Regions from separate parts of the Homo sapiens genome. Here all the other regions are linked to region 2. The links come from fine-mapping of genetic effects on gene expression. A gene starts in region 2. Each other region holds a variant in brackets. All regions are shown on one strand. Distances are between the middles of the regions. Region 1 holds the start of LANCL1 (LanC like glutathione S-transferase 1). Region 2 holds the start of CPS1 (carbamoyl-phosphate synthase 1). Region 3 overlaps LANCL1 (LanC like glutathione S-transferase 1). Region 4 overlaps CPS1 (carbamoyl-phosphate synthase 1).

What was found. PIP is the estimated chance that this variant, and not a neighbour inherited with it, causes the effect.
Region 1: its variant is fine-mapped to the expression of CPS1 in lung (TOPMed, PIP above 0.99). The same link has a PIP of 0.9 or more in blood mononuclear cells, coronary artery, esophagus mucosa, esophagus muscle, fibroblasts and left ventricle.
Region 3: its variant is fine-mapped to the expression of CPS1 in tibial nerve (GTEx, PIP above 0.99). The same link has a PIP of 0.9 or more in atrial appendage.
Region 4: its variant is fine-mapped to the expression of CPS1 in fibroblasts (GTEx, PIP 0.97).

What each region holds. Positions count from the first base shown.
Region 1 is chr2:210,475,281-210,480,503 of GRCh38, forward strand. It overlaps LANCL1 (LanC like glutathione S-transferase 1), which reads right to left and starts at 1,479. Exons shown (of 10, transcript NM_006055.3): 1 at 1,340-1,479; 2 at 1,036-1,132. The coding sequence starts at 1,116. It also overlaps a transcript of CPS1 not described here. The variant G/A (reference allele first, on the strand shown) is at 2,468.
Region 2 is chr2:210,553,730-210,558,952 of GRCh38, forward strand. It overlaps CPS1 (carbamoyl-phosphate synthase 1), which reads left to right and starts at 2,870. Exons shown (of 38, transcript NM_001875.5): 1 at 2,870-3,130. The coding sequence starts at 3,005.
Region 3 is chr2:210,463,351-210,468,573 of GRCh38, forward strand. The region is part of intron 3 of LANCL1 (LanC like glutathione S-transferase 1); the gene reads right to left. LANCL1-AS1 (LANCL1 antisense RNA 1) reads left to right here. Exons shown (of 5, transcript NR_110606.1): 4 at 5,155-5,223. Among named protein-coding and RNA genes, the nearest start is that of LANCL1, 11 kb to the right of the region's middle. The variant C/G (reference allele first, on the strand shown) is at 2,803.
Region 4 is chr2:210,603,219-210,608,441 of GRCh38, forward strand. It overlaps CPS1 (carbamoyl-phosphate synthase 1), which reads left to right. Exons shown (of 38, transcript NM_001875.5): 17 at 1,884-2,028; 18 at 3,513-3,723; 19 at 5,143-5,223. Among named protein-coding and RNA genes, the nearest start is that of CPS1-IT1, 12 kb to the right of the region's middle. The variant G/A (reference allele first, on the strand shown) is at 3,129.

The sequences.
Region 1 (5,223 bases), 78 kb before region 2:
AATTTTTAAAGCGTGTGCCTTGTTTCCAACTTAACTCATTTTCAAAACTAAATTTTATTTTTTTATTTTTTAGAGACAGGGTCTCTGTCACCCAGGCTAGAGTGCAGTGGTGCAATCATAGCTCACTACAGCCTCGAATCTCCTAGGCTCCAGCAATTCTCCCGCCTCAGCCTCCCAAGTAGCTGGGACTACAAGCTTTCCACCACACCTGGCTAATTTTTAAAAAAATTTTAGTAGAGATAAGGTCCTGCTGTGTTGCACAGGCTGGTCTCAAACTCGTGGCCTTAAGCAATCCTCCTGCCTTGATTTCCCAAAGTGTCGGGATTAATGGTGTGAGCCACTGCACCCAGCCAAAAGTAGGTATTCTTAAAAATATCTGTATTCCCTCTTAACAATTATGTTCACCCAATGAGGCATGAGAAAACACAGGCCCCTAGTATTTTACATCCAGGTTCTCTTTTGCACAGTGATTTGTGACATGCTAACCAGTTTAATTTACAAGTTTCTTTTTTTTTGTTTTCCAGCTGTGGATATGCCCTGTGGAGTGACACCGGTACAAAGAACTTCAGGTTTCCTAGGTCCCCAAATTCTCTAAGCACTAACAGTTTAAAGACGTCCTTACCATACACCACCGTTTGCTCTCATCATTACCCTGAACGCACTTGTGTATAATCACAAAGGAGTAACACGGCACATGTGAATACCGTTAGGATTCTTCACCTCTTTTTAAGAAGCAAACCAAAATACATTAAAAAATGCCAATTACATAGTAAACTACATATTTGCCAATTTTTAAAATTTATACTATCAATAATTGAGTTTATTTCAATTAATAATGTTAACAATGACACATTTAACATTATGTTAGAGCTCAATTTGTATATATTAACATGTATTTTTAAATAATTTACGTATTTATCGTCGAATCATGTATTTTTTTAAAGGGGGATGCTCAACTCTCTCAGGCAAAAATGAGCACCTTTCCGAACACCGTGGGGAGAGGCAGGGATGCAGGCAGACATATCCTAAACTCACCCTCCCGGCAGCATCAAAGTAGCCTTCGGCCAGGGATTTGTTATAATCAGCATAAGGATTCGGGAAGGCCCTTTGAGCCATGACGCCGGAAGCAAGCCTGCAGAACAGGGGAAAAACAGAAACTAGGTTGAGATAGGGGCCTCGGCCGAGTTGCGAGGGCGGCGGCGGCGCCCAGGTATCCCCCTTCCTCCAGCTCCAGGGCCATCGAGCCGTCTCGGCGGTCCGAGTGGACCTCGGGCCCACTGCGGCCCAACTGCTAGGACATGGCGCCTTCGCGAAAAAGCTGCCAGGGCCCTTAACCCACCCGGACAAAGAGGCCCCGTTTTGCAACCCCGTTCCCACGCCCGCGACTTGAAGCAAGTGCGCCTCCCGCGTCCTGAAGCCCTTCTCGGCCCTGGCCTCTCACCCCGCAGCCCCGGACAGTAACAGAAGGGCTATTTTACCGCCCAGTTCCTGCCAGGAGGGCCAATCAGAGCCTTCGCCGTTCCCGAGACCCGCCCCCTTCTCTCTTACAGTTTGTTAAAGACACAGGCGTGTAATTTCTAAAGGATAACGCAGGGTATTTTAATTACTGGGTAGCAGAAGTGAGGACCTAGAATCACGCGGAGATGTGACCAATATTTCCTACCCTTCTTTAATTTTTCTTATTTTTAAAAAGTCAAATTTAAGTCCAGAGTCATAAGAAGTATATATTTTTTTAACCTGGAGAAGAAACAGACTGCTTTTAGATCTGAACATGCTGGTATTTCTGCTGTTCGCAATAGATAAAATTTGGCGGGGGGTGGGGGGATAATGTCTCTCCAGGGACTTGCCAATCTTTTCTTTTCATTTCTTAAAACAAACAAACAAAAAAGCACCACCATCATTAACAACAACAACAACAAAAATATGCCCAAAGGACAGGATATCAAATAGCAGTTGATAATACTTTGGGGAAAGCACATGAAAACACAAATTACAGCTCTTAGGAAATTTATTCTGTTCCTTAGCCTAAATTGGACTATAATACTGGATAACAAAGCTCTAAAAAATACTGAAAACCAACACAGCAGGAGATCCACAACATTCAATTTCAATGTTTTAACAGTCCCTGCTATCTGAAACATTTTTCTTTCATTTAAAATTAAATCCCACCTGGTACATATTAGGCCCATTCTATTGCTCAGAGAATTTTGGAGTTCAGTTAAAAAGTCAGCCTCACTCTCTCCTTTTCCTTCTCTCCGGTTTCAATGAAGAGTCCTAGCTCCAGACCTCCAACTGGAGAAGCTCAGTCTCCACCCCAACTCCCTCCCTCCTTGGCCTAAGTTTGTCCTTCTGAGGCTGCCATCCCAAACTCTACTCCTAATCCCTCCCCACACCCAGGTTTGCTCTTTTAAAATAGTTGCTTTCTTAGGAAATGTAGTTGCTTTCTTAACCTCATCAAATTCATGAA[G/A]ATTTAGCCGAGGCCCATGGTGAGTCTTAAGCTGGATATCTCTCATGTTTTAAAAGATGGGTGTTTGAAGGAGCAACTCACAAGAGAGAAAAGGAAAACGAGAGACATTTTATCAATTATTTTTTCTTTAATGATTAAAGGCTATCCATTTATCCCACTCACAGTCTTTAAGCAATTAAATATTACTGTTGTTAAGCAAGGCAGGATGGTAATTGTATATTTTCATAGTATGCCTCTATCTTATTTTACTAATCCTTTCCCCTAATGATGGACATTGTTTCTAACTTCCATACTACAAATAATATTCTTGGAACATGTGCTTTTATGAATCTGTGTGAGTATCCCTGAGACATACACCCAGCAGTCAATTGCTGGATCATATGAGATTCTGTACTTAATTTCCCCAATGTTGTTAGATTGCTTTCCAAAACTGCTGGACTAGTTTATATTCCCTCTAACAGTATCTATTGTTCACTCCAAGAGTATTCACTCCAACATATCAATTGTTTCTGTCATTTCCATCTCCTCTCCAACACTTGGTATTATCTAGTGTTCTAATGTTTGCCATTCTAATGAATAATGTAGAATCTCACTGATGTTTAATCTTTTAGTTTTTCTGTGGCTAATGGTGTTGAACTTTCCTTCATATACCTGTTAGACAATTGGGCTTTACCTGTTCCTTTATTTATTTTTCTATTAGTGATTGCATTGTTTTCCTGTTGATTTGAAAGAGTTTTGTTTCTTTTTTTCCCGTGTTTGTGGGGTATATTCTGTATATTAATCTCCTTTCACTTTAGTTATTGTAGATACTTTCTTTAGTTTGTTCACATTTTCTAGGATATCCTTTATTGAATCACAATCTTTCATTTCGATGAAGTTAAACCCATCTAATTGTGACACTGTGATTTGAGGATTTAGCTTCATATTCAAAATGTCTTTGTCTACTCATAGACTGCAATGACTTCCCACATTTTATTTTATTAGCTTTTTACCTCTTATATTTAAGTCTTTATCTGGAGTTTACTTCTGAAGATGATGTGAAGCATGCGTCTAAACGGAAGGGAAGTAGAATTATTTAGAATTTAAATATAATCAAAGCATGTGACTTGTAAACACCCAAAGATTTTAATTGCTGGAAATAATATTTCCCTCCCTCCCTCCCTCCTCCCCCCTCCCCCCTTCCCCCCTCCCTTCCCTCCCTCCCTCCCTGCTTTCCTTCTCTTTCTTCCTTCCTTTTTGTCAGAGAACCAACCCAGAGAATCCCTCCTTGGTTCTGATACAAAAGAAAAGTATTTAACATTTATTGTTTGTATTTATCTACTCAGGCTGCCACACAAAGAACCATAGCAAGTGGCCTGAAACAACAGAAATGTATTTTTCCACAGTTGTGAAGGATAGAAGTCTGGGATTAAGATGTTAGCAGGACTGATTCCATCTGAGGCCTGTCTTGTTGGCTTGTAGATGCCGTCTTCTCCTATCTTCACATGGTTGTCCCTCAGTCTGTGTTGTCTGTGTCCTAATTTCCTCTTCTTACGACACCATCATAGTGGATTATGACTTCATTGAACCTTATCATTCTTTCTTTTTTTTTTTTTTTTTTGAGACGGAGTCTCGCTCTGTTGCCAGGCTGGAGTGCAGTGGCACGATCTCGGCTCACTGCAACCTCTGACTCCCTGGTTCAAGCGATTCTCCTGCCTCAGCCTCCAGAGTAGCTGGGATTACAGGCACACACCACCACGCCCAGCTAATTTTTGTATTTTCAGTAGAGACGGGGTTTCACCATGTTGGCCAGGCTGGTCTTGAACTCCTGACCTCAAGTGATATGCCTGACTTGGCTAACCTTACTTTTCTTTAAAGACCCTTCTCCAGCAGCCACATGCTGAGATAGTGAGAGTTAGGACTTCAACGTATGAATTTGGGGGGCAACAATTTTAGCCCCAAATAGTACCTATGCTTTCACCTGTGGCTATGGTGGCTGAACACATTTGTGGCTAACACAAATTTGACAGTTATAATTTTTTATGGATCATTCTACTTTTGATAAATTTAGGATGATTTTTTAAAAAAATGTAATGTTCCTTCTTTTAATCACTGTAGCTGTCTTGTGTGAACTTTCAGGAAATAATCATTGTATTATTGCCTCTAAAACTGAATACTTCTGGAAATCTGGGATGATTGATAACAGAGAAAACAACTATATTCTGAGGGCATTTTAGTTCCATTCTCAGACTTTAATTTCAAAATGTTATAATGTATATTAGGGTGAAAACTATGTTAGTTACAAAGAGGCCTCAAAACATAATCTCCAAAATACATAGAAATGTATTTTTCTTAGTTCAGATTAGATTTGCTCCATGTGGCCATTCAGGATCACAGATTCCTTCCATCTCTGTTCCCACCTCCCTCAGAGTGTGATGCTCTCATCAAGTCCATGCTGGTCATAGGTGTGTCGGTATTGCAGCTTGTGAGAAGGTCAGGCACACCCAGAGAAGTGCACAGACCAGGAAGTGGGATTTGTCACTTCCCTCGTGTTCTACTGGTGAGGATTTAGTCACTTGGCCACCTCTAGCTGCCCAGGAGGCTGTGAAATGAAGTTCTCTGCTGAACAGCTATGTGTTCAGCTACAATGAAAGAAGGGGAAGACTGACTTTGGTGGACAGTTAATGTCCTCCAATACATGATGGCAGTTTTAGTAACTGATAGCCCCTGTCTGCCAGCAAAGGCGCAGCATGCTATAGTGTCTGTGGTGTTCCTTT
Region 2 (5,223 bases):
AGTGTAACATTTCCACTAAATTTTTTCATGTCTGACTTTAACATTCCCTACCAACCAACTCTTATAGCCTCAACTCCTTTGATCTATCCTAATGTAAACTCCCTCACTAATGTGTAATATATTTTTTTCCAGTTTGGTTATAGATTTCAGTCTAGCCTGAACACTCAAGTATGAAACTAGCCACTATTTTATTTATTGGCTGTTCCAACCTCCATTGTGGAATTATAATTGATGGATTTTCCAAGTCTCTAATTCAGAATATTTAATCAAATTTTCCAAAATTTCTGCCTTCTCCTCCTTCATTCTGATGACTAAAGACATGGACCATAAAATATATATACATATATACATACATATGTATATGTATGTATATACACATATATATATGTATGTATATATACATACATATATATATGTATATATACACACACATATACATATGTATGTATATATACACACACACATATATATATGTATGTATATATATACACACACATATATATATGTATGTATATATATACACACACATATATATATGTATGTATATATATACACACACACACCGTAGTTTGCAAGTCTGCATCTGGGACCCTTTACTGATAAAAATGAAAGCCCATTAAAACTCTCATGCCCACATTTCTCTCTAGACTTTAGAGTAGGAGAATTCTATCCTAGAATTGTTGATTGTTGACATTTCTATGGAAAAACATGTTTAATTCATCATGCTTTGTAGTCAACTGCTATAAATGGTGATGAAGTCTTTTCCTTGGTCAAGCTCTGGACTCCTCAGTACTTCCACTGTCATATTTGATTAAAACATAAGTGATGAAGGGAGGAAATATATTATAGTATTCATTGCATGGGTACCTTAGGGTAATGGGACTATGACTGATTTAAATTTATTTTGCATCCTAAAAAGTTTCCATTAGTGGGTGCAGCACACCAGCATGGCACATGTATACATATGTAACTAACCTGCACAATGTGCACATGTACCCTAAAACTTAAAGTATAATAATAAAAGAAAAAAAAACTTAAAAAGAAAAGTTTCCATAATGAGGATTGAGTTTATATCGTTTTCTTAATTAAGGAAAGACAACCCTCACTACACACACACACACACACACACACACACACATAAAAAGACAAGAGGTGAGATCAAGGCGTAAACTAGTATTGGACTAAGCCAGTAAGTACTGCTTCTCAGTCCTCAGTTCTCTAGGTTGGGAGTTTTCCTTTTGCTATTTTCATTCTCCTCCAATTCATTTTTCAATGATCTTCAACACAAATTTCGCCTTTATTTCTTGTTCAAAATACTTCCATGACTATTATGAATACTATTTATGGATGAAGGCTGAACATTTTAAGGCATACTAAGTCTCCCATGATATGGTACCTTTTCATTTTCCCATTCTATACCCTGCATCTAGGCTTTTAAAAAATATACCACATGACTTCATGCCTCTAGGCTATTGCTCATGCCACGGCATCCCTTCTGGGTTTTTTCCCCTCTTTATCTACTTGGTGAATTTGCATCCTTCAGTATAACACAGCTCAACATAATTCTATGCTTAAACTTTACTGAAAATGCACAAGGAACTTGATCTTTCTTTCTTATTTTCCCCATTTTATTTATTTTCCCATTGCATTTGGGCAACTTTCATGGCACCAGTTATTTTATTAATTATTTGTATAAACTAGTATGAGCCTATTTTGTTTAGCTTTCTATCACCAGGAGCCATGAAGCACTTTGAAATCAAATACTGTTTGTACTTGAATATATTAAGTAAGCGTGAGGACTTAAATTAAACTTTGTTCCTCTTTAAAAAAATCCTTACCCCAACTCTAGCACTGATTCTATGTTATTGAAGCTTACAATCTTTATGTCATTTTCTGTCATCTTTTCTGTTATGAGAAGACCTAGGTATGAGTCTATTGCCTTTATTCCTTGGCCTTCTTTGCAAGGGTATCAAAGAACACTGCTGCAGTACTTCCTGTTCTACATAGTCATGTGACTTAAGCAAGAGCATCTGCCAGCCAGTGAGGCCCCTTGAGAGCCTGGTTAAACATGGGACTGAAGGGTTAAGTGAATCACTTTTTATTCATGTTGAAATATGAATGCTGAAGTTTGGAAAATTTTATATATAACATTTTAATAACTAAAAAAACTTGACTTAGGAATAGTGCTTATATTAAAATCAGTGTTTGTCATTGTTTCATGAAGTTTTTACAAATCTAAGAGGCTTAAGAGGGATATAATAGTCCACTTTGCTTTAGTTGTGTTTTACTTGATATTACTGATTGCTTTAACTTTGAAACACAGAACAATGCTATAGTAAGAATGTAGTATACTACTCTATTAACCCAAAACATAATATAGATAGGTTTATTGTATATTTGTGGAGAAAAGTTTATTCTAACGTTCTTTTTACAAATAGTAAAAATGCTATTTGTAGGATGCTCTGATTTTTACTTTTTGTAAAAAGAACATTGTCTTTTTACCCCAACAGAAAATGGCAAGCGTTCAGCTTTCTTTGGGAATCCAAAATCTCTTATGAGGCATATTAGGTATCACATGTGACATAAGCAAAAGCCTGTGATCCTTAGCATGTTGGAAAGTTGCTACTCTTTAGGATAAGGTTGTCCATGATGTCTAGGTCATTCCATTCAGCTGCATAAACAATTCCTTTGATGGATGGCTGGTTTTCTACAACCCCAGCATTATTTTAGCAGGAGAAGGTAGTATTTGATGTGTTGCAATTTGTGTTACATGCCCATGGAACATCTCTGGACATTACCTCAGGAGGAGGGGTTAAGAGAAGGAGGAGCTGTGGCTGAAGACATTTAATGGCAGAATGAATGGAAATTCAAAGATCGCTGTGCAGTCAGCCTTAAACACTGACTGCACCCCTCCCAGATTTCTTTTACATTAACTAAAAAGTCTTATCACACAATCTCATAAAATTTATGTAATTTCATTTAATTTTAGCCACAAATCATCAAAATGACGAGGATTTTGACAGCTTTCAAAGTGGTGAGGACACTGAAGACTGGTTTTGGCTTTACCAATGTGACTGCACACCAAAAATGGAAATTTTCAAGACCTGGCATCAGGCTCCTTTCTGTCAAGGTAATACCCATATTGATTGTTTCTGATAAAATACTATGGGGTATAGTTTAGCAGTGAAGCAAAGGTGTCCCTTACAAGGCAAATACAGTTTTGAATGTAGCTCTGAAGTACTAATGTATTAATGTTTCCTTTACTGTGGAACCTACTGACTTAGCAAATGCTAATTTTTATCTTATCTGAGTAACATGACAGTAATTTTTACCCAACATAAAGAATGATGACAATTCTTGTGAACATGTAAAATGTAAGTACACTGCTTGAAAAAGAAACATCTTTTCTTTCATAGATAGCTTTCTGTGACTAGATACTATTGCTTACAGTTTGGATTTAAAAAATGGAGCTGCTTATATGTGTGTGAGCCACATTATGGTACACAGTGTGTTAAGGTCTGTTCTATAAATAGGGCTTACTGAAAAGTTCTCTTTTGAAATATCATTTAAACATTTTAAAAACATAATTAGAAAATATGTGTTTTTGAGATTTGCAGGTCATCATGTAGACACTGCTTTAGCTTTTTCCTTTTCCTTCTGGCTGTTTTTTTGGGCAGGCTAAACTTATTATTTTCATTTTGTAGAGTAATACATAGAGGCAGATAGCAGCTGATAATTCTGTCCCTCCACAGGTATCTATAATTGAGAGGGCAAGCCCAGGAAAGAAACATTAATTGCCCTTCTTCCTGCCCCCCAGCATTGAATTATGAAATTCCTGTAGGAACCTCTGCTCCTTCCTGCAACTTTATGAAGACGTTCATTATCAGAGAAGCCTGAAGTTACTCCATAGGAACTTTGCCAATGAAAATAATCTTTAGTGACTATAAGTTTAAGTAATTATATTAGCTTTAGATATATTGCTTCTTTAGCAGCAAAAGCTGTAAAATTTGAAATAGAAAAAACAAAAGAAAACCTCTGTCTGTTGATGTGAAAATGGGAACTCACAGTTTGGAGTGTTCTGCTTATACTTTGCATGCTCATTGAGTTGACTAAGCTTCTATTGTTTCAGTTGCTCAAGTCAGGATTCAGTGGGGTTTTGGTCCTGACACCTGCAAGGCCAAGGAATATTCATAGATTCCTGTGGCTGCCAGGGATAGGGATGGGAAAGGAATGGGAGTAAAAGAAAAGGAAGAGAGATGGAGACAGGGGGAGGGGAAGGGGAGAAGTGTGAGGGATGGGAGGGAGAGAGAGAGAGAAAGAGAGAGAAACTAGCTCAAGATCCCAGGAGAAAAGAGGAAATACATATAGTAGCCTTAGTGGTGTGTTAACAACTTCAGCCTTTAACATTGAGAAGATTCTAACAAGAGTATAGGAAATTACCATTTTAAATTAAGAAAACCAGAAAGGAAAATGTCTTTTATGTTGTTACATATTCCAATGTATCCAATTTTACTCTTTTTAAATGGACATCATGTTTTAAAGATAGTTAAAATCATTAGGATGTAGTTACATAATGGCCATAAAGGGCACTGGGAGCAGTCACTAAAGGTTAGTGGCATTATGTCTAGTTATATATATTTTCTTGAATTTAGCTTAATTATAGCAAAAGAATGGGAAAGGAGAATATTCTAAACTAACATCAAAGACATTGTAACTAGATGTAAACTATGAGAATTTATTGTTAGTAATACCTCAAGGTACTCATGTATCAGTTCAGAGAAAATCAATAGTAATGAAAGTTATCCCCTATGATTATATGTGCCATCTAATACTTCAAAGTTGGGTGACTTGGAATATCTTCTTCTCACTCTGTGAGAAGGTAGGTATGTAGGTAAGGATAGGTGCATCTTCATCAGACCCCAGAAACCGCGAAATTGAGTACTTACTTAAAATGGCACAGATATGATTGAAATTAGAATCCAATTCTCCAAGATCACAATAAGTGCTCCATACAACCACCACCACAATCACAACCACGACAAAATGGTCTAATTATGTGGATGGATTACTGTGAAAGCAGTTCTAGCTCATGGTGACAGATCTGTTTCAAGGGTCTGTCACAGTGCACAGCTAAGAATGACAAATTTGTAGGAGCACTAAGCCATCATTTCATGGTGTAAAAGCCATTACTCACACTCAATCATTACTGGCCAGAGTTTTGGA
Region 3 (5,223 bases), 90 kb before region 2:
CAAGCACCCACCACCAGACCTGGCTATATAAAGTTTTTTTGAGGTTTAGATTAGTGAATTAATGCAACACACTTAAAATGGTGCCTGGCATACAACAGTAGTTATTGGTGTACGTGCCTGCACCCTGTCTTGTCATTCAGATGTTAACTGCAGTAACATTTTATCACCACGAAGAGTGTTTTAATCTTACTCCTGTCCTCCAACAGTCAAATGATCATAAAACTGCATACTGATGATCTTTATTCCCTTGGGAACCAACATTCAGTCAATCTATTTTATTATTCTTTTTTTGAACATTATAGAAGTAATTTGTTAAGTCTAATTTACTGTCTGAAAAATTGATTAATCATAACATCTCATTCCTGAATGAGCATGAGAGAGACCAGAGGGATTTATGGTAATAACTGCCTCTTTAGACAATATGGGACAGCTACAGGTTTTTAAAATTCTTCCCTCCTTTCTTTCCCACGGTCAGGGCATTTTTACCTCTGCTGTGAATAAAAAAGGTAAAAGTCAGGGATACAGCTTGTAAAATTGCACTATGACAACTCACAGGTGTAAATATGTAGGCTGCAGTGGAAATGACGTTTGAGTTCTATTAAAAGTTCATGTTAACCAATCTCTTCACTATTTCATACCCTCTGCTTCAATTTTAAAATAAAAGCCAAGATAATTTCAGTTGTAAAACAGTTTGTAAAGTAAGTGTAAAGTACTTTCTTAAGCAATTATTTGCTTCTGTTACATTTCTATTTAAACCTGTACATATCACCCTTACCAACAAAGCATTGTGTATATACGAATTATTTGGAATAATCCTATTCTAAATCCTAATCTTATCTGAACTAGCGTTAATTATCAGACCATCTACATACTACTGGGGAATGAAACAACAAAATAAAATTGTAAAGTCCTAACTAATTGTAATAATCATTTTACTAAGCATGTTTAACACTCAGAAGTACTTTAGCAGAATTCTAATAAGTACCTTCTATTAGTTTTAATTTTTGTTGAAAAGATAGATGGGGAAAAAAAGGAGTCAGTTTTTCAGTTCCAAGTGCAGTGGGCTTTTAAACAACATGGGTCTGAACTGCATGGGTCTACTCGTACACAGATTTAAAAATATATATATATAGTGGAAACTTTTTTGGGCTTCTGTCGACAATTTGAAAAAACTTGCAGATGAACTGTGTAGACCAGAAATATCGAAAAAATTAAGAAAAAGGTGTGTCATGAATGCACAAAATATATATAGTTACTAGTCTATTTTATCACTAGGATAAAATATACACAAATCTATTATAAAAAGCTAAAATTTATTAAAACTTATGCGTACAGGCCGGGCGCGGTGGCTCACGCCTGTAATCCCAGCACTTTGGGAGGCTGAGGCGGGTGGATCATGAGGTCAGGAGATCGAGACCATTCTGGCTAACAAGGTGAAACCCCGTCTCTACTAAAAATACAAAAAATTAGCCGGGTGCGGTGGCGGGCGCCTGTAGTCCCAGCTACTCGGGAGGCTGAGGCAGGAGAATGGCGTGAACCCGGGAAGCGGAGCTTGCAGTGAGCCGAGATTGCGCCACTGCAGTCCGCAGTTCGGCCTGGGTGACAGGGCGAGACTCCGTCTCAAAAAAAAAAAAAAAAAAACTTATGCGTACAGACTGTACATAGTGCCACCTGCAGTCAAGAGAGATGTCAAAAAATGTAAAGATGAAAAATAACTTCGTAAATTAACTCCAGTGCATACTGTAGTACAGCAATAACTTCTTAGCCACCTCCTGTTGCTGATGTGAAATCAAGTGTTGCTCCACTTAAAATAACATGTGATGTGAATTATCTCTGCTTGAGATCATTATCTCTGTCTCTCCAGTAAATTACATATCACAGGAAAGAGTAATCTCTTCTGATTCTTGCATATTTTTAATTGTTTTTAGTGCAATATTGTAAACCTTGAATAACACCATGGGACACATACAAAGTGCCACTAGTGATGCTGAAAGTGCTTCCACGAAGCAGAAAAAAGTCGTGACATTACACGAAACACCTGAACTGCTTGATATAATGTAACCATAGATTGAGGTCTGCAGCTGCAGTTGCCTGCCATTTTAAGATAAATGAATCCAGCATAAGGACCACTGTAAAGAATGAAAAGGAAATTCATGAAGCCATCACTGCAGTTACAGCAGCAGGCACAAAAACCTTGCATTTTTAGTGAAACTGCAGTACATATTGAAAATGTAGCCTTTATGTTGGTGCAGGACTCTAAAATGATTCAAGAAAACGTGAAGTCAATATACGGCAACTAGAAGCAAAACGATCTAAAGCTGTATGATTTAATGCCAGCAAGGGTTGGTTTGATAATTATAGGAAGAAGTTTGGCTTAAAAAAATGTCAAGATAACAGAAGCAGCAGCTTTTGCCAACCAAGAGGCAGCAGACAAGTTCCCAGGTACGATGAAGAAAAATCGAGGAGAAAGGCTATCTGCCTGAAAAGGTTTTGAACCCTATTCTGGGGGGGGAAAAGCCACAAAGGACATGCATTAGTAAGGAAGAGAAATGACCACCAGGATTTAAGGCAAGAAGGAACAGACTAACTCTACTGTTTAATGCAAATGCTGTAGGGTTTATGATCAGGACTACCCTTATTTATAAAGCTGCCAACCCCTTGGTCTTGAAGAGAAAAGATGAGCACCAGCTGCCAATCTTTTGGTTGTACAGGAAAGCTTGGACAACAAGAACCTTTTTTAATCGTTTGGTTCCACCAATGCTTTCTCCTTGATGTAGGGAAATATCTTGCCAGTAGGGACTG[C/G]CTTTTAAAGTTTTTTCAATAGTGCACAATGCCCCTAGCTACCCAGAACCCAAGAGTTCAACACTGAAGACATCAAAGTGGTCTACTTGCCCCAAACAGGTCTCTAATTCAGCCTCTACATCAGGGGGTCATAAGGACCTCTCAGGCTCATTATAAATAGTACTTTACGGAACGGATTGTCAGTGCTATGGAGTACACTGTGGAGATAAAAGTGACTCCATCTTGTAGGCTAATCCTCTACACAGACTTCTGATTAGCCCCGGCCCCGTGAATGCCTCCTGGTTTTTACTTTATTTACTGCCCCTAGTATAAGAACAAAGGAACCTTGGTGCTAATGCACAAATTATAGGCTGTGATACACATAGCCGTCTTGCCTGTTTTTGAGGGTTGCCTTTCCCTATGGTATGTAAGCCCTGGGTCTCTGGAGTAGCAGTGTTGAGATCTTCCTGCCTTGTGGCTGACCAAGACCATGCTTGTGTCTCTAAGTTCTCCAATAAAACAGCCTTTACTGACAAATTGGATTTTCTGCCTCCTCCTTTGATTTTTCAGCTACTTCAGCATTTGGGGGTCACTTTGCATATGTGACCCTTTCACGGAACAAACCAGATAGAGAGAACATCATGAAAGTCTAGAAGAATTACACCACTGAGATGCCATCGTTGATACAGTAAAGCCACAAAAACCATCAAGGCTGAAACAATAAATTCCTGCTGGAGAAAACTGGGTTCAGATAGTGTGCATGACTTCACAGGCACCAATCAAGGAGATCATGAGAGAGATGTGGATATGGCAAAAAAAAAGGTGGGGGATGGGGATGAAGGATTTCAAGATATGAATCTTGGAGAAATTCAAGAGCTAATAGACGCCACACCAGAGGAATTAACAGAAAGCAACTTGATGAAGATGAGTTCTTATGAACCAGTGCTAGAGGATGAGGAAGATATAGAAGAAGCAGCACCAGAAAATGAACTGATGTTAGACAGTCTGGCAAAAGGGTTTTGATTATTCAATACTGCTTTTTACTTCATTTCTGACACGGATTCGTATATGGTATGGGCACTGACACTAAAGCAAATGGTGGAAGAATTGCCAACGTACAGATATTTTTAGAGAAATGAAAAAGCAAAAACGTCCGACAGAAATTACGATGTATTTTTGCAAAGTTACTGAGTGTTCCTGCCTTTCCTGCCTTCCCTTCCACCTCCCTTCACTTCTTCTGCCTCTGCCACCCATGAGAGCAAGACCAATTCTTTATTTTCCTCCTCTTCCTCAGCCTACTTAATGTGAAAACGAGGATGAAGACCTTTATAATGATCCACTTCCACTCAATGAACAGTAAATGTATTTTCCCTTCCTTATGATTTTCTTAACATTTTCTTTTTTCTACCTTATTGTAAAAATACAGAACAGATTAAATGTAACACACAAAATATGTGTTAATCAACTATTTATGTTATCAGGAAGGCTTCCTCAACAGCAAGCTATTAGTAGTTAAGTTTTGGGGGAGACAAAAGTTATACATAAACTTTTGAGAGTGTCAATGGGCATGTGCCCTTAAACTGCACATTGTTAAGGGTCAACTTTACACATCTAACATTAAACACATGAATGTGTCATCTCTTCACTAGAACCCTTTCATTTTCAAGATCAACTGAGCAACTAAGACAAATCTAGACACACCATGAATGAGGTATTAAGAAGTTGGGCAGCCCAGTTTTGTAGCTTTCTTTAGAGTCATGAAGTAGAAACAAAGACATACAATTATGGGGTTTAGTATGAATTGATGCATGGTACAAATTGGAAACTTTATAATTTTGCAATAGAAAATAAGGGTTTGGGAGAAAGCAGAAAAGAATGGCAAGTAACTGTTTAATAAAGCTACAAAAATAGTAATGTTTTACAGTATTAAGTTTAGAATCAATCGCTAGTCCCTTCTAGATTTAAGTTACACTTAGCTCTAGGAAAATTATGATTCGACATTCCTATAATACTTACTTTCTGTGGCAGGCTTTACGCAAAGACTTACTGAATGAAAAAAAAAAAACACAAAACTTTAAGGTGTTGTGAATCAAAATCCAAATCAATCTCCCTGGAAACAAAGAACAGATAAAATATTGCTTGGAAAATTTCAAAATATTTTATAGACACTGGTAAATTTATCCCCCCAAAAATCCCCCAAAAAGTGAACAGAAGAGATCCTTTAGCAGACATAAAAATTGAGGCTCACTGTCCAAATGCCTTGTGCAAAACATAGAAGTCAAGAAAAAAATCATTTTTCTTGTTATATAGAAGTTACAGCAAAGACTACTAGGTCTTATCCCAAAGTTCACTCTCCTCTTCCTCTATTAACAGAACCCAAGCTAAAAGACTGCATTTACTACCCTTCCTTGCTAACAAGAGTGACTACGTGACTATGTTCTG
Region 4 (5,223 bases), 49 kb after region 2:
TGGGAATTATTTAGGAAATAGCTCACGGACAGCTTATTGCTTCATCTTTACTTACTTTTTGAACTGAAGTGAAATGAGACCCTTGAATTGTTGACATAGAATTTTGAAAACAGATAAGTACAATTCAGCATATTTAAATAACTACAATGGCAGACTTACATATAAACAACTTGGGTTTCGTTTTTCTAAAGTTGTGAAAATTACAAAAAAGGGAAACATACCTCACATAAATGTTTCTTGTTACCATTCTGGACATATGAATCACATATTTAGAGCAAAAACATGTTTTTGAAGATAGAAAGTTTATTTCCTCTAGCATGTTAGAGGCTCCAAATATTTTCAATATTAACAACTTCATAACTGCCAATTGTGACAGTGTATACATATTCTCTATTAATTTTTTTACTCTATAAGAAACCAATCTGAAGACTGAACTTTTCATGTAAGAAAGTTTATAATAAAGAGAATTTTGGAATGAAATAGCTTTCAATTATTTATATTGTACTCAAATAATCAATAGTCCCTTAAATGGTTTTTCTTGTTGAAAAAAACCCTCGCTCTTCCCTTGAGAATAATTAGTCATATCATTATGTCCTAAACAATCCCCTATTCTCTTGAGGTTATAATTAGCACCATTAAAAGCTGCATTAACTTATCCAGGTCCCTAAATTAACTTTTTACATAAAATCGAAGACTTCAAAAAATAAAAATAAAAATAAGCTGAGGAAACAGGTGAAGATAATTTCAAATTTTCCCTGTATCTAAATATCCATTTTACTTCATTAGAATGCAAAATACTTTTCCAAATTTATACCCTTTGTTTCCTAGATTTCTTCTTTTAGCAGGCAACCGGAATGATGAATTAATCATTATTAAATTGTTAACATTGGCTACTGAATTTTCTAACCACTTTGAGAACCTCATCGTGGGCAGCTGTGGGGACAAATGTGTCACATTTTCATTTGCACGTGCTGGAGCCTGTAGTGATGACTGAAGTTTAAAAAAATCCTATTAAGGCACATTACAGAAAAACTTACATTAAATTATTATTTTAATGCCTATTAATAATTTGAAAAAATTCAAACTGCTTTCCCTTTCACTGTCAATCCAAATCAAATATATTATAAGACAATAAGACATTTCTCCCTTGGATTATCAGCCACTGCATGTCCTAAGGTCAAAGATTACCACTTTCCTATTTTGGGTTCAGTATTCTACCCATTGTGGGTGTGCCGTAAATATGAAATTATAATTATGCTAATTCATATCTGTCTAATCAGGCATACATGATATATGACTCAGAGTATTTAAGCATTTAGGCAGTGATTAACCATAATAATAGTCCCATATGATTCTTCTAATTCTCAAGTTTTATATGCCATCTTGGCTAACCGTTTACAACCATCATCATCTCCTTTCTCCTCCTCATCAACATCAACTAACTTTTATTGTGTGTGTCACTGTACAAAGCACCCTCAGCTATTTTAGAGAGAGCCAGAGTCTTTAGACTTATTTTTCCATATTTATTCACACTTATCACATTTTCTGGTTTCACAGAAGCCTAGCTGCTGAAATAATTTCATTTCCCTCTGCCTGATTGCTCAATTATTTTCTCTTTTTCCTAAATTAGTTTGATTTACTGTCATATCAGCACTTTGAATGGCAAGCCTCAATAATGTAAATCAAGCATATTCACTGCAGGATGCTATTCCTAGTACCTCACTGATTTTCTGACACATTGTGCCTTCTGTGCAGGGGAGAATGGAGACGGGGTTTGAGAGTTCAGTGCTGACCAGGATTTATGCCAGGGTATTTTGCCAAATATCCTTGTTGAAGCCAGTGCTTTTTCTTACTCTTTGATATCTTTTGTCACCAATTTCTAGGCCTTTGCTATGACCAACCAAATTCTGGTGGAGAAGTCAGTGACAGGTTGGAAAGAAATAGAATATGAAGTGGTTCGAGATGCTGATGACAATTGTGTCACTGTCTGTAACATGGAAAATGTTGATGCCATGGGTGTTCACACAGGTAGGCAAAGTATCTTCAAGAACTATAGTAATGCTTTCAGTTCATGTCTTTGATGGCCAAGGCAGTCTTTATAAAGTTGTTGCCTTTAAATTACTATTTCTAGTTGACAGACTAGTGATAACATTTTGGACAAGCATAGTATTTTACAGTATTGAAAATGTTCTCACATTTAATTTGATCTTCACACAAACCCTGTGAAGTAAGGCGGATATTACACTGAGTTAATTGAGGAAGAGCCAAAGGTAAGCAATATGGTAGAAATAAGATCCATAAAACTTAGTGTTGAGAAATAAGAAGGGAGGTTGAGACAGTTTAAAGCAGACTGAGCTGGTAATCACCCAGTAAATGAGAAAATAGGCACAATAATAGAAATAAGTTTTTCAGAAAAGTACACTAGTTAGATAAGAGGGCAAAGATGATAACTTAGGATTTAAAAGTGCTAAATTTGGGGTGTGAGCAGAGCTGTCAAAAAAGGGAGTTGAGAATGTGGAGATGGAATTTAAGAAATAAAATAGAAATAAATAAGTTGATACAAAGACACTGGAAACTGTTGGCATAAAAGGGGAAATTGAAGTTGTAGGCATAGACAAAGTATTCAAGGACATAGGTATAGAAAGAGGAGAGAATAGGGTTGAACTTTGAACTCTGGGAAACATTTAGATTTATAGGGCAGGGGAAAGAGGAAGTATTACTGTTGAAGATAGAAGGGGAGAATAAAGAGTTAAGAGGAAAATCAGGTAGTACTGTACCAACTAAGCCAATGCAAGAACTATTTTATAAAAGAGCTTTGTTTTTGGCAGTATCAAATGCTATGCAAGACCAAGACTGATTATTTAATTTGGCTCTTTTGGATGTCCAAGAGAACAATTTCATTGCAAAGTCAGTTCTGTGAGCTCTATTAAAAGGAATTACATGGTATCAAGTGGTAAGCAGAATTGGCAAACTTTCAAGAAGCTCATTCATGTAAAGAATGAGAGAGAAGCTTTGTATGGTTGTCTGGCAATGTTGGGAGAAGACTTCCGGAGGCAGTGAAGATCTGAGCGTGTTTGAAGGCAGAAGGGATGGAGACTAAGATTGCAGATATAAGGGGCTATGATGAG[G/A]GAAGTGAAGATGGAAAGGGATGAGATACAGAAAGCCAGCTGATGAGCCAGTCTGAGTGATAATATTCAATGAAAGGAAGAACTTCAGAAATAATTTGAGATGAAGAGCAGGGAAGTTGAAGTCAATCTAGTAAGTAGACGATTGAAGCCTTGATAGCTACTTACTAGATAGATGAACTTGGGAAAGGTTAGAGAGGTTTCTAAAAGTACTGTATCAGAGTAATATGGGCAAAACAGGAATTGGGGGAATACCTGATATCACATATATATCCCAACAAACCCTCAGACTGTTCTATGTCTTGCATCGTGCAAGTAGATGGTTAAGTCGCTGAAGTTGGTTATTTCAATATGCCACCAAGTAATGAGTGCTTCTTGGATATATAGGTGACTCAGTTGTTGTGGCTCCTGCCCAGACACTCTCCAATGCCGAGTTTCAGATGTTGAGACGTACTTCAATCAATGTTGTTCGCCACTTGGGCATTGTGGGTGAATGCAACATTCAGTTTGCCCTTCATCCTACCTCAATGGAATACTGCATCATTGAAGTGAATGCCAGACTGTCCCGAAGCTCTGCTCTGGCCTCAAAAGCCACTGGGTAAGACCAGAATAATTGACCATGGGTTTGCAGATTCTTTTCAGATAGAAATGAAAAATTGACAGATAGTGGAAGACTGTACTGCATTTACAAACTATGTTCCCTTTTTCTGTATGTTAGCTCCAAATCATTTATAGCACCCTGAGGACATGATTATTAATGAGCTTGTTGCCAGATTGAGGTAAATTATATTGCTAGCTGGCTTTGTTTGCAGGCTAATCTAAACGAATCAAAATCTAGGTGGCTAAAGCAGGCTGTGAAAAATCTGCTTCCTAATTGCACTTTGCAGATGTTGTTAAAAGTGCAGATTAATCCTTAATTTTAGTCTTCAGCTGTTTTCTTCAGGTGTATAGCCCTATAGCAAATAGTTGACAGAAAATATAGCTCACTTGACTCAAGCATGCAATACACATTACTTTTATTTTATCAAAACTCCACAAGACTGAACAGTGCGGAATTTTTTCACAAGTAACTGTTACAACCAAACAAATACATCTGCTGTCTATGTAACAGCCACTAGCAGGCATGATTGGAGGGAAAGGTAATCAAAACCTTTGGTTTCTAATAATATATTTAGCACCTTACACTTAAATTATGGCATTTAAATGAACACAATATTTACTTCTTTATATTTTTTTTACGTAGTTCCACAGCACTGCGTGGAGTGGTGAAAGGCATGTTGCCCTGTACAGGAGTCACAATTCTGCATTCTCACTTGGTTCTTCTGTTGACCGTGTGATTTTGAGCACATCACTCATTGTCTTTATCAGTTTCCTCATTTGTTAGGTGGAAGTTGTACTAAAGAACTCATTTTTAATTCTATAGTTCTATGAATTATTTTCTCAAACAGAATAACCCAAACTGACATTCTGGATGAAGATAGTCAAGTTCTCAAAGTGTTAGTTTTGTAAGGAGCCCAAAGTTCAAAGATAATTTGGAGACAGAGCAAGGACCCAAACTTGAAATGCCTACATTTTCTGACCATTATGTACTCTCTTGTACTAGCTAACTCCACTGTATTCTTAGGTACAGATATGTATATGTACAGATATGTATATATTTTCTCAAAAAATATTTTGCAGATTCTCATCTTAGTGGAGGTTAAATACAAATAAAGGTTAAACTTTATTTATCAATAAAGCTATCGATTTTGGGTTGAAGAGGTGAAGGTTGAGCGTTGTAGCAATGCATGTAGTGCACAGAGAGTAAATTCTCCTGTGACCTGTGCCTCTATACTTTGTATCATGACTCCTATTATTCCGCAAGTGGCTACTAAATATTGATGCAGAACAGAGAATCAAGTGTCTTATACCCTGAAGTAGAATAATACCAGAAATTTTAAGAAAGACCAATTTATGTTTTGGTCTGTTTTCAATAATTGCTCGAAGAAAAAAAAATAAATTTGTCTTCTTTTTATAGCTACCCATTGGCATTCATTGCTGCAAAGATTGCCCTAGGAATCCCACTTCCAGAAATTAAGAACGTCGTATCCGGGAAGAC